2 separate regions of the Homo sapiens genome follow, and region 2 is linked to region 1. Evidence: fine-mapped expression QTL. A gene starts in region 1. The other region holds a variant in brackets. All regions are shown on one strand. Distances are from middle to middle.

What was found. PIP is the estimated chance that this variant, and not a neighbour inherited with it, causes the effect.
Region 2: its variant is the best candidate, but not a certain one, in a credible set for the expression of MYBPC2 in prefrontal cortex (CommonMind, PIP 0.72).

The regions. Positions count from the first base shown.
Region 1 is chr19:50,430,313-50,435,670 of GRCh38, reverse strand. It overlaps MYBPC2 (myosin binding protein C2), which reads right to left and starts at 2,779. Exons shown (of 28, transcript NM_004533.4): 1 at 2,699-2,779; 2 at 421-510. The coding sequence starts at 2,717. It overlaps SPIB (Spi-B transcription factor), which reads right to left. Exons shown (of 6, transcript NM_003121.5): 6 at 4,357-5,358. RefSeq lists enhancers at 900-1,400, 2,215-2,973 and silencers at 3,323-3,542, 3,573-3,662.
Region 2 is chr19:50,491,885-50,497,242 of GRCh38, reverse strand. No RefSeq gene overlaps it. Among named protein-coding and RNA genes, the nearest start is that of MYREM, 5.7 kb to the right of the region's middle. RefSeq lists enhancers at 4,958-5,037, 5,078-5,137. The variant TG/G (reference allele first, on the strand shown) is at 3,027.

The DNA of each region.
Region 1 (5,358 bases):
CAGAAACCAAACATCATGGGGGTTAAATGGCTTTTCCTGACCTGGGAAAGGCCACCTGTCACCCTCGTGGCTGTGTGACCTTGGCCAGGCTCCCTCACCCCTTTGGGCCTCGGTTTCCTCATCTGTGGACTGGAGGGCACTGAATGTGCCTTTGGGGCGGGAGAGGTTTAGAGAGACCGGGGCCGGACCTGGTGATCAATCAGCCAGCTGACCGGAGCCGATGCCAGCCGAGGGGCTGGGCTCTGCCTGCGGGTGCCAGGGAGCCCCGGGAGGGCTGGGAGCACGGGAGGCGTGGGTCAGCCCTGGGGCTGTGCGGGGACAGATTCAAGGATAGAGGCTGGGGAAAGGCCTGGAGAGGCGTAGCGAGGAGGATGGAGATGAGAAGCCAGGTCGGTTGAGCCCGAGGGAGCACCTCCTCACCTTTGGGGGCCTCTGCAGGAGCCTCCTTAGGGGGAGCCTCCTTGGGGGCTCCTTTGGGGGCATCTTTGCCTTTGGGGGCCTTTTTGGCCGCTGTAAGGTAGGGGACAGTCATAGTTGAGCATGCGGTCTGCACACCCATGCCCCTCCCTCAGACGCAGGAGTCCAGACCCCCCAGCCCCTCCTCCCTCAGACCCAGGAGTCCAGGCCCCCAGCCCCTCCTCCCTCAGACCCAGGAGTCCAGGCCCCCAGCCCCTCCTCCCTCAGACCCAAGAGTCCAGGCCCCCACCCTAGGTATAAATTTATCTCAGATCTGAGAGTCTGTGGGATCGGGTTTCCCTTACCCCCAGCAGGCCCTGCCCCATCCGCCCAGGCCACCACGCCCTGACCTTTTGGGTCCGAGGGTATAATTAGCTCTCCCTCTGGGCTGGAAACTGGACACCTGGTGCTGACCGCAGCATCCTTCCCCTGCCCTGCCTGCTGTTCCTTGCCGGCTGGGTCTGCAGCTACAGTAGGGGCTGGACCCACCCCACAGCCTGCTTGGCCTGATGCCAGCGGACCAGACATCCCAGGAGGGGGTCCGCCCAGCGGTGCATGATTCCTGCGGTGAGTTCCTCATAGAGAGAAAGCCTCATCTCCACAGAAAGTGTTCCCCATTCAAAGAAGGTCCCCAAACCCCGCAAAAAGGACCCCATTCCCTGCATGAAGAAGCCCCGCTAATTCCTACACGGGGAAGCCTCAGTGCCCACAGAAATGAGGCTCCCCCATCCTTAATACAGAGACTTCCCCTGTGACTCCATGCAGATGGGAACCACTAATCTTTATACCCACAATCACCCCATATCCTACAGAGAAGGTCCCTTGGAATCTATTTTTTGTTTTTGTTTCTGTTTTTTCCCAGCAGGGTCTCGCTCCGTCTCCCAGGCTGGAGTGCAGTGGCAAGATTTGGGCTCACTGCAACCTCCGTCTCCTGGGCTCAAGTGATCCTCTCACCTCAGACTCCTGAGTAGCTGGGACTACAGGCACACCCCCACAAGCCCAGCTAATTTAGTATTTTTTGTAGTGACGGGGTTTTGCCATGTTGGCCAGGCTGGCCTTGAACTGCTGGGCTCAGGTGATCCACCCACCTTGGCCTCCCAAGGTGCTGGGACTACAGGTATGAGCCACCGCACTGGGCCATTTTTGTTGTTGCTGTTGCTTGTTTTTTAGAGACGGGGTCTCACTCTGTCACCCAGGCTGGAGTGCAGTGACGTGATCACAGCTCACTGCAGCCTCAACTGCCTCCTAAGTATCTGGGACTACAGGCATGCACCACCACACCTGGCTGATTTTTAATTTTTTGTAGAGACAAGGTCTCGCCATGTTGCCCAGGCTGGTCTTGAACTCCTGGCCTCAAGCAATCCTCCTGCCTCGGTATCCCAGAGTGCTGGGATGACAGGCGTGAGCCCCTGCACCTGGCTCCCTCTGAGTCTTCACTCAGAGAAGTGGCCCAGACCCTGCCCAGAGGATGCCATCCCCGGATGTGGAGAATCCAGTCACATGCAAAGACCTCCCAGTCTGGCCGGGCTCGGCGGCTCATGCCTGTCATCCCAGCACTTTGGGAGGCTGAGGCGGGTGGATCACCTGAGGTTGGGGGTTTGAGACCAGCCTGGTCAACATGGCGAAACCCGTCTCTATTAAAAATACAAAAATAGCCAGGCATGGTGGCGCAGGCCTGTAATCCCAGCTACCCCAGGCAGGAGAATTGTTTGAACTCAGGAGGCGGATGTTGTAGTGAGCCGAGATCGCACCAATGCAGTCCAGCCCCGGGGGCAGAGCGAGACTCCATCTCAAAAAAAAAACCAAAAACCAAAAAACAAAAACAAACAAAAAAACCCAGTCTACACACACAGACCCCCATCCCCATCAAGCAAAAGGAACCCAATTTACAACCAGAGAATCCCATCTCCACCAGAGATGCCCCCCCAATCACTTATAGAAAAAGAAACACCCTCCCTGCTGAGTGAAGGGGATCCCTCACCCCACACAGATATGAGACCCACCCCATCTCATACAAGGAAGGAAACTCCTGTCACAAAGGGAAGGGACCCTCTTCCCCATGCAGAGTCGAGACCCTCACCCTAAACTGATGCGGGAACCCCCATCCCGCACAGCAAAGGGAGCCTCCTCCTCACACAGCGAAGGTTCCTCCTTCTCCCAACCCTACAAACAGAGGGGTCCCAAATCCCCATCCAGAAAAGAAGAGCCCCATCCCCACACAGGGAGGGGGTCCTGGCGCCACCTGGTTTTGCCTCAGGCATGTCGGGGGACCTCCTCCTGCTCCTCTGACCGCAGCCGCGTCCCGCTAGGCCCTAGGGAGGACAGGTGGGCCCCTAAGGGGAGCCTTTTAATGAGTCCTGAGACTCCCAGAAGGCTCCGGGAGACATCAGACCACAGGGCCGCCCCACATTCCGCCCGCATGTTCTAAAGGGCGAGAAATAACAGCTGGACCTAGGGAGATGGCTGAGAGCCAGGTCCCCAGGGAGGAGGGGCTGGGGCTCGGACACCTGGGTCTGAGGGAGGAGGGGGCTGGGGCTCGGACTCCAGAATCTCAGGGAGGAGGGGACTGGGTGCTTGGACCCCTGAGTCTGGGAGCAGAAGCAACTGGGGTCCCAGATTCTTGGGTTCCCTAGAAAGGACGAGCGCCTGGACGCCTGGGTCCCGGGAGAAGGAAGAGGAAGAGACTGAGGGTCTCAAGGGGGTAAGGGCTGCGGGCCAGAGCTCTGGCATGAAGCAGGGAGGGGAGGGACAGGGTCTAGGAAGCCATTCTTAGCATCTGCAAGTCAGGAGTTTTCGGGAAACCGGAGCCGGGAGGGAGGGTCCGGTTTCCTAGCGTAGGCAGGACGGCGGCGGGGGGAGGAGGTCCCTGCGCCTCCGGGGAGGGCGCCGCGGCTCTGGGACTCCGGAGTTTCGCGCCCCGGGCGTGGGCAAACCCAAAGAGCTGGGGCCCCGGCCATCTGGGACCCCGGACTGGCCGCCGCCCCTCCTGGGACCGCTCCCCGCGACTCTTCCCGGAGCGGGCACGGCAGGCACCGGACGCGGGTAGGGGGTGGGCGTCCCCGGTGGGGGCGGGTGGGAGGCTGGGAAGGCCCTGGAGGGCTGCCCGGACGTTGGCGCCCTTCCCGGCAGGGGGACCTGTGACTTTCTGAATGGGGTGGCTCTGGACGCGGCGGGGAGCCGAGGGGGCGGGGCCTGGGGAGGGGCGGGGCTTGGGGACACCAGGTGTTGTGGGGAGGAAGGAGGGAAAGGGTGTTGGGGACTTAGGGTTAAGGCTGGGGGACTGCCTGGCTAGTAACGCAGCGTGAGGGACCCGGTGTGAGGAAAACAAGTCCCTCCGCTTTTTTTTCCTGTTCATCTTCCCCCTCCTCCTTTTCCAAAACCCCCTACGAGCCGGAAATTTCTCCGCCTCCGGGGAGCGTCCAGCCAATCCGGCGTCAGTTCCATGTGATGTCACGGGTTGCCAGGCAGACTGCCACTGCGCTCCCGCGAGCCCCGCTAAGTTGGGGAGGGGCCCAGGCCTGCAGTGCCGCGGCCACCTGAAGCCTCGCGTCCCTCGCTGCCAGCCCGAGGGCTCAATTCAGAGGGAAGGGGACAGACACCCAGACGGAAGGGGAAGCGGGGAGGAGGTGGAGAACTTCAGTTGGCAGGAATAGAGGAAGACATAAACGGAACCCTCTGTGCCTGCGCGTCAAGCCTCTTATTTCTCGGCATTAAGGTTCAGATAGGTTTTGCTGTATGGTGTCTTTGTGATTTGTTTGTTTGTTTTTGAGACAGGGTCTCGCCGTGTCTGGAGTGCAGGGGCACGATCACGGCTCACTGCAGCCTCAACTTCCTGTGCTCAAGTGACCCTCCCACCTCAGTAGTTCGGAGTAGCTGGAATTACAGGCATACGCCACCACACCCCGCTAATTTTTTATTTTTTTTGTAGACGGGTGGGAAGGGGATCTCACTATCTTGCCCAGGCTGGTTTCAAACTCCTGTACTCAAGCGATCCTCCTGCCTTGGCCCCCCAAAGTGTTGGGATTACAGAGCCACCGCGCCAGCATATAATTCTCTCTTTGAACTCCTCTCATCATCACCCGTGATGTCACGGTGTCTCTGAGAGCCAGCGGCCTCAGTGGAGGGGCAGGATTGCAGTCCCTGACAAAAGGTCCCAGGAGGTTTGTCTACGTCGATGCATCTTATTTTATTCCACATTTAGGGTGACAATGATAGCTTTTGTAAAAAGTACCTTCCCCGTTGCAGGGGGCCCTGGGGAGGACGTTTTACCTGCCCTTCCTCCCTCCCCCTTCCCACTCATTCTCTTAAGGGCAGGTCCCAGCCTGGGCTCTGCCATCAGCTGCTGTGTGCCTCCACATGGACTTCTCGTGTCTCTAGGTCATTGGCATTCCTTCCTCCTCCTCCTCCTGGGAGTGGGGTGGATTTCAGGCGGTGTCAAAGGCTCAACGGGGCTGCAACAGTTTTTTTTTTTTGAGACGGAGTTTCGCTCTTGTCGCCCAGGCTGGTGTGCAGTGGTGTGATCTCAGCTCACTACAACCTCCGCCTCCCAGGTTCAAGCGATTCTCCTGCCTCAGCCTCCCAAGTAGCTGGGAGTACAGGCACATGCCACCACGCCCAGCTAATTTTGTATTTTTAGTAGAGAAGGGGCTTCACTATGTTGGTCAGGCTGGTCTTGAACTCCTACCTCAGGTGATCCACCTGCATCGGCCTCCCAAAGTGCTGGGATTACAGGCGTGAGCCACCGCACTGGGCTGGAAAGTCTTTTTGAGATCTTCCTCCTCCTTCTCTCCCTTTTTCACAGAAGGGACAAACTAAGGTTGGGAAGCAGCAAGTCATGCACCCTAGATCCACCTGCCCACCCAGGCTCAAGGACCTCTGGCCTCTTGGCCCGCAGCCTTTGAC
Region 2 (5,358 bases), 62 kb before region 1:
CACTCCTCTGCCTCTCAGCTCGGCCCCCCAGCCCTGATCCTGGGTATAGGGGGTGGGAATTCTGGAGCTGGGGGTGGGGGCTCCTCCCTCCCAGAGACAGAGATGGATGCAGAGAGAGAACCAGAGACAGGCACGGAAAGAGACAGAGAGAGACAGAGCGAGACAGAGACAAGATGGGGGCCGTAAGCTCAGAAATGAGAGAGACAGCAGGTCACAGAGACACAGCACGTGAGAGACAGGGAGACACAGAGAGACTCAGAGACAGACAGACCAGACAGCGCCCCCACTCCAATACACACAAACAGACACAGGGGACAAGAGCCGGTCAGGGCTGGACAGCCTCCCCTCCCCCTCCAGGCCAGGCCAGGCCAGGCGGTGCCAGGCCCAGGACAATGGGCCCTTGTCAGGGCTCCGGAGGAGCCAGCCAGCTGGGGAGGCCTGTGGGCTGGGCCACGGAGGAGGGTCGGCCACAGCGGCTGCTGGGTTGGGGAAGGTGCACCTCCTGCGGGCCTGGCCCACGGCCTCCACCCTCAGACTCTCCTTCTCCCCTGGCCTCCCTTCCTGGGGTCTCCACCTACTCCCAGCCTGCTTTCTCTGCTCTGCCTGGGGAAGGGGACAGGCATTTATGGAGTACCTGCTGTATGCACCCAAAATGCCTCCTCGCCTCTCCTCACACACTCCGTCTCCCGCCACGGGTGTGCCGTCCTCGGGTGTGCCCGCCTCGGGTGTGCCCGCCTCGGGTGTGCCGTCCTCGGCGCCCTCTACTTGTTCCTCCTGTGCCTCTGGCTCCTTCCATGGAAGAAACGGGCAATTATTAAGCACCTGATGCTTGGCAGGCAATTCCCCTAACCGCGTCTGCACTTTCCATCCTTCTTGCTTTCCTGTCCCTTCTGCCCCAGTTCCTTTCTCTTTCTGATTTGCTTGGTCTCTCCTGGGAAGGAAACGGGCATCTACTGAGCATCTGCTATGCGCCGAGGAGTTGAGGAACATGGCTCCTCTCTCGCTACCTTCTTTCCTCCCCCCACCCCCATTCCTTTCTTTCTTTTTTTCTTTCTAGGACAGGGTCTCACTCCGTCGCTCAGGTTGGAGCGCACACAATCGCAGCTCACTGCAGCCTCGACTTCCTGGGCTCAAGCAGTCCTCCCACCCCAGCCTCCCAAGTAGCTGGAACTCCACACACCACCATTCCTGGCTAATTTTTGTATTATTATTATTATTTGAGATGGAGTTTTGCTCTTGCCGCCCAGGCTGGAGTGCAATGGCGTGATCTCAGCTCATTGCAACCTCCACCTCCTGGGTTCAAGCGATTCTCCTGCCTCAGCCTCCCGAGTAGCTGGGATTACAGGCACCCGCCACCACGCCTGGATAATTTTTAAGTATTTTTAGTAGAGACGGGGTTTCACCATGTTGGTCAGGCTGGTCTTCAACTCCTGACCTCAGGTGATCCACCCACCTTGGCTCCCAAAGTGCTGGAATTACAGGAATGAGCCACCGCACCCAGCCTAATTTTTGTATTTTTTGTAGAGACAGGGTCTCTCTACGTTGGCCAGGCTGGTCTCGAACTCTTGGGCTCAAGCGATCCTCCCACCTCTGCCTCTCAAAGTGCTAGGATTACAGACATGAGCCACGGCGCCTGGCCCCTTTCTTTCCTCTCTATTGGTGTCCTCTCCTTTCTGACTTTCTGCTCTCTCCTGGCAGAGGGAGTGGACACATTTTGAGCACTTACTGTGTACTAAACACCTTACATACCTCTCTCCTCACTCTCTTCCTCCCCGGTCCCTCTTCTGTCCTTTCCTTGTGTTTCTGAGCTCTCTGCCCTCTTCCAAGGCAAGGACTACATTTATTGAGCACTTCTGGTATGCAAGCAATTATGTCCTTTCTCTCCTCTCCTCTTGCCCTTCAGTCTCCACTGACTCCACCAGTCTCTGCTTCTTTCTGCTCTGTGCCAGGGAAGAAAATGGGCATTTATTGAGTACCTATTGTGTGCCAGACAGTTTTCTTATTCTCCCCTAACCCTTCACTTCGCCTTCTTCCCTTATCTCTAACTTCTTTCTGTCCCATCGGCTCTTTCTCGGGGACAAAGACAAGCAATTATGGGGCACCTACTGTATGCCAGGCAATTAACATCCCTCCTCATCTCCTACCTCTTTCTCGCTGCCCCTCTTGCTCTGCCAGCTTATCCCCTTGCTGTTCTCTGGGTCCTTTTCTGGGGAAGGGTACAGGTGTTTATTGAGTGCCTCCTGTGTGCCCCATGGTTTACCTGCAATGCCCCCTCCCTGCGTATCCTCTCCTCTGCCACACTCCTCTCACTGATCCCTCCTCCCTCTGCTCCTCCACCCCCACGGAGGCCTCCTGGGCCAACCTTTTCCTCTCATTCCTGTCTGTGCCTTCATTTCTGTCTTGTTCTCTTGCTCCTCCAAGGACGACAATGTGCATTTATTGAGTGCCTCCTGTGTGCCCACCACCTCACCAGTGTACTTGTTCTCATTTCCTCTCTTCTCCCTGCCTCCTTCTCTCCACCAGCTTCTCCCCCTCCTCTCTGCCCTGCCAGCTCTTTCCTGAGGGAGGAAATAGGCATGTATTGAGTGCCTACTGTATGCTGCCGCTTCATCTACACTGTCTGCTTGCCTCACAGGCTCTGTTCTCCCTTCTCTCCTTTTCTCCTTCTCTCCGCTTGCTCCCTTCCTCCTGGCTGCTTTCTCTGTGCTTGCTGCCAGGGAGGAGAATGGGCATTTATTAGGCACCCACTGTGTATTAGTCACTTTACATATATTGTCTCCTTCCCACACAACAGTCTCTTCTATTCTCTCTGCTGGAGTTTCCTCCTCCTCCTCCTCCTCCTCCTCTCTTCCTCCTCTTCTCCTTCCTCCTCCTCTTCCTCCTTCTCTTCCTCCTCTTCCTCCTCTCCTCACTCCTCCTTTACTTTCTCCTGTCTCTTGGGGAAAAGAAATAACACTTAACAAACACCTACTGGTCTGCTTCACACTTTCCACCCGTGCCTCTCTCTCTTTTTTTTTTTTTTTTTT[TG/G]AGATGGAGTCTTGCTCTGTCGCCCAGGCTGGAGTGCAGGGGGGCAATCTGAGCTCACTGCAACCTCTGCCTCCCGGGTTCAAGCGATTCTCCTGTCTCAGCCTCCTGAGTAGCTGGGATTACAGGCACCCACCAACATGCTCGGCTAATTTTTTGTATTTTAGTAGAGACGGGGTTTCACCGTGTTGCCCAAGCTGGTCTCGAACTCCTGAGCTCAGGCAATCCACCTGCCTAGGCCTCCCAAAGTGCTGGGATTACAGGCGTGAGCCACCGTGCCTGGCTCTATGTCCCTCTCTTTAGGCTGCCTCTCCTTCTGCTTTTGCTCTGCGGGACTTTCTTCTTCTCCCTTTTCATGTGGTCCTGAAGGGCCTGGGCAGTTATTGAGCACCGACTGTGTGCCAGGCTTTTTATAGATACAGCCTCCCCTTCTCACCCTCGATTCCCCCTTTCTCTTCCTCTCTCTGCCTTCCTACTCTCTGTGCTCTCCCCTAGGAAAGGGGAAGGGCACCAATTGAGCGCCAACTGTGTACCAAGGCGACTCTCTTTAGCCCCTTCCTTTCCCCTCAGCCGCCACAGCCCTAGAAGGGGTGGCCAGCTACACCGTGCGGGGCTGCAGGAAAGAGGAGGAGGAAGGAGGATGTGGGCTGCAGCCTGATTTCTCCCTTGGAAAAATATGTGGACGACAATGGCTACTCCCTCCCAGGTCAGGGTGGGGTGGGGGAGGCTGAAGGAGGCCTGGAGGGACTCTAGGAAGGAACACTCTAGAATCTGAGCCTGAGAGGCAGCCCGTGCCCATGGAGGGGACGCTTCTGCTGCCAGTCACCACACTGGATTCAAGCCTGAGCCTCCTTCCTCCACCTCCCTCTCCCCTCCGCAGGCCTTCCTGCCCTGCAGACACTTGGCGGGTGGTCCCTGGACTCCTCACCACCTGAGGGAGCAGATGAGGAAACTGAGGCTCGGGCGGGAAAGAGGATTTGCCCCTCCCCATTCTCCTTCTACCTCTCCTCTGTGACCCCCTTCCTCTGTCTCTCTCGCCCTCTCCTCTCTCCCATTCTCTGAATCTCTCCCCCAACCCCTGCTCCCACTCTGTTCCTGTCTCTGCATGCCCCCAAATTCCCTTTTTTTTTTTTTTTTTTTTTTTTTGAGATGGGGACTCGCTCTGTCGCCCAGGCTGGAGTGCAATGGAGCGATCTCAGCTCACCGCAACCTCCTCCTCCCTCTTACTCCACCTCCTCCTCTTTCCTCCTTCCTCATCTTTCCTTCTCCTTCTTCCTCCTTCCTCTTACTCCCTCCTCCTTCCTCCTCCTTTCCCTCTTTCCTCTTCCTCCTCCCTCCTCCTCCTCACCCCTCCTCCCCCTTTCCTCCTCCTCTCCCTCTTTCCTCTTCTTCCTCCCTCCTCCTCCTTCCTCTTTCCTCCTCCTCTTTCCTCCTCCTCCTCACCCCTCCTCCCCCTTTCCTCCTCCTCCCCCTTCCTCCTCTTTCCTCTTCCTCCTTCTTCCTTCTCCTCCTCCTCTTTCCTCTCCCCCCTCCTCCTCCCCCTATCCATAACACACACACACACAGGCTGTCCCTGTCCCTGTGTGTCCTCTCTTCGGCTGGATCCTCAGTGTTTCCTCCTCTCTAGGTCTTGCACACACTGCTCCTCCCTTGGGCGATATTCCAGTCCTCCACACGCTTCCACCCAGCCCCACCTTTTCCTGATTGTCCACCTTGTGGCTCTCAGCCTTTCTGGAATCTTCTCCCTTGTCCTCCAGACTGCCACCCCCCACTGTCTTCTGCCCTCTCCTTCCCCTGCGCTAGGTCCTCCTCCTCATCCCCGCCCTGTCATTTCCTCATCGTCTGTACCCAACCCCCAGAGGAGGCGCTGATGGGGCCCCAGTCTCACTGTGCCCGTCCACAGCAACCGACTGTGTCAGAAGGAGACAAGGGGGCCGGGGACAAGGGGCAGCACTGTGGTTAGGGCCTGTGCCCTTGGTCTCCCTCCCTCCTCTGCCTCCTTTGCCTCCAGTTTCTGTCCCTTGGATTTGCCTCTCCTCTTTCCTCTCACTCCTGCCTCCCCTTCCTCTCCCTGCACCTTCAGTGAGTTCCACCTGGCTTCCCCTCCACACGCTCCTGGTGGCTTCTCTTTGGCGCTTCTCTCTCTCTCTCTCTCTCTCTCTCTCTCTCTCTCTCTCTCCCTGTCTCTCCCATCTCTCGCTGTCTCTGTCTCATTTTCTCAGTCCGTCTCTGTCTCTCTCGCTCTGTCTCTCTCACTCTCTTGCCATCATTGTCTCTGTTTCTCTCGCTGTCTCTTTCTTTCTCACTCTCTCGCCATCATTTTGTCTGTTTCTC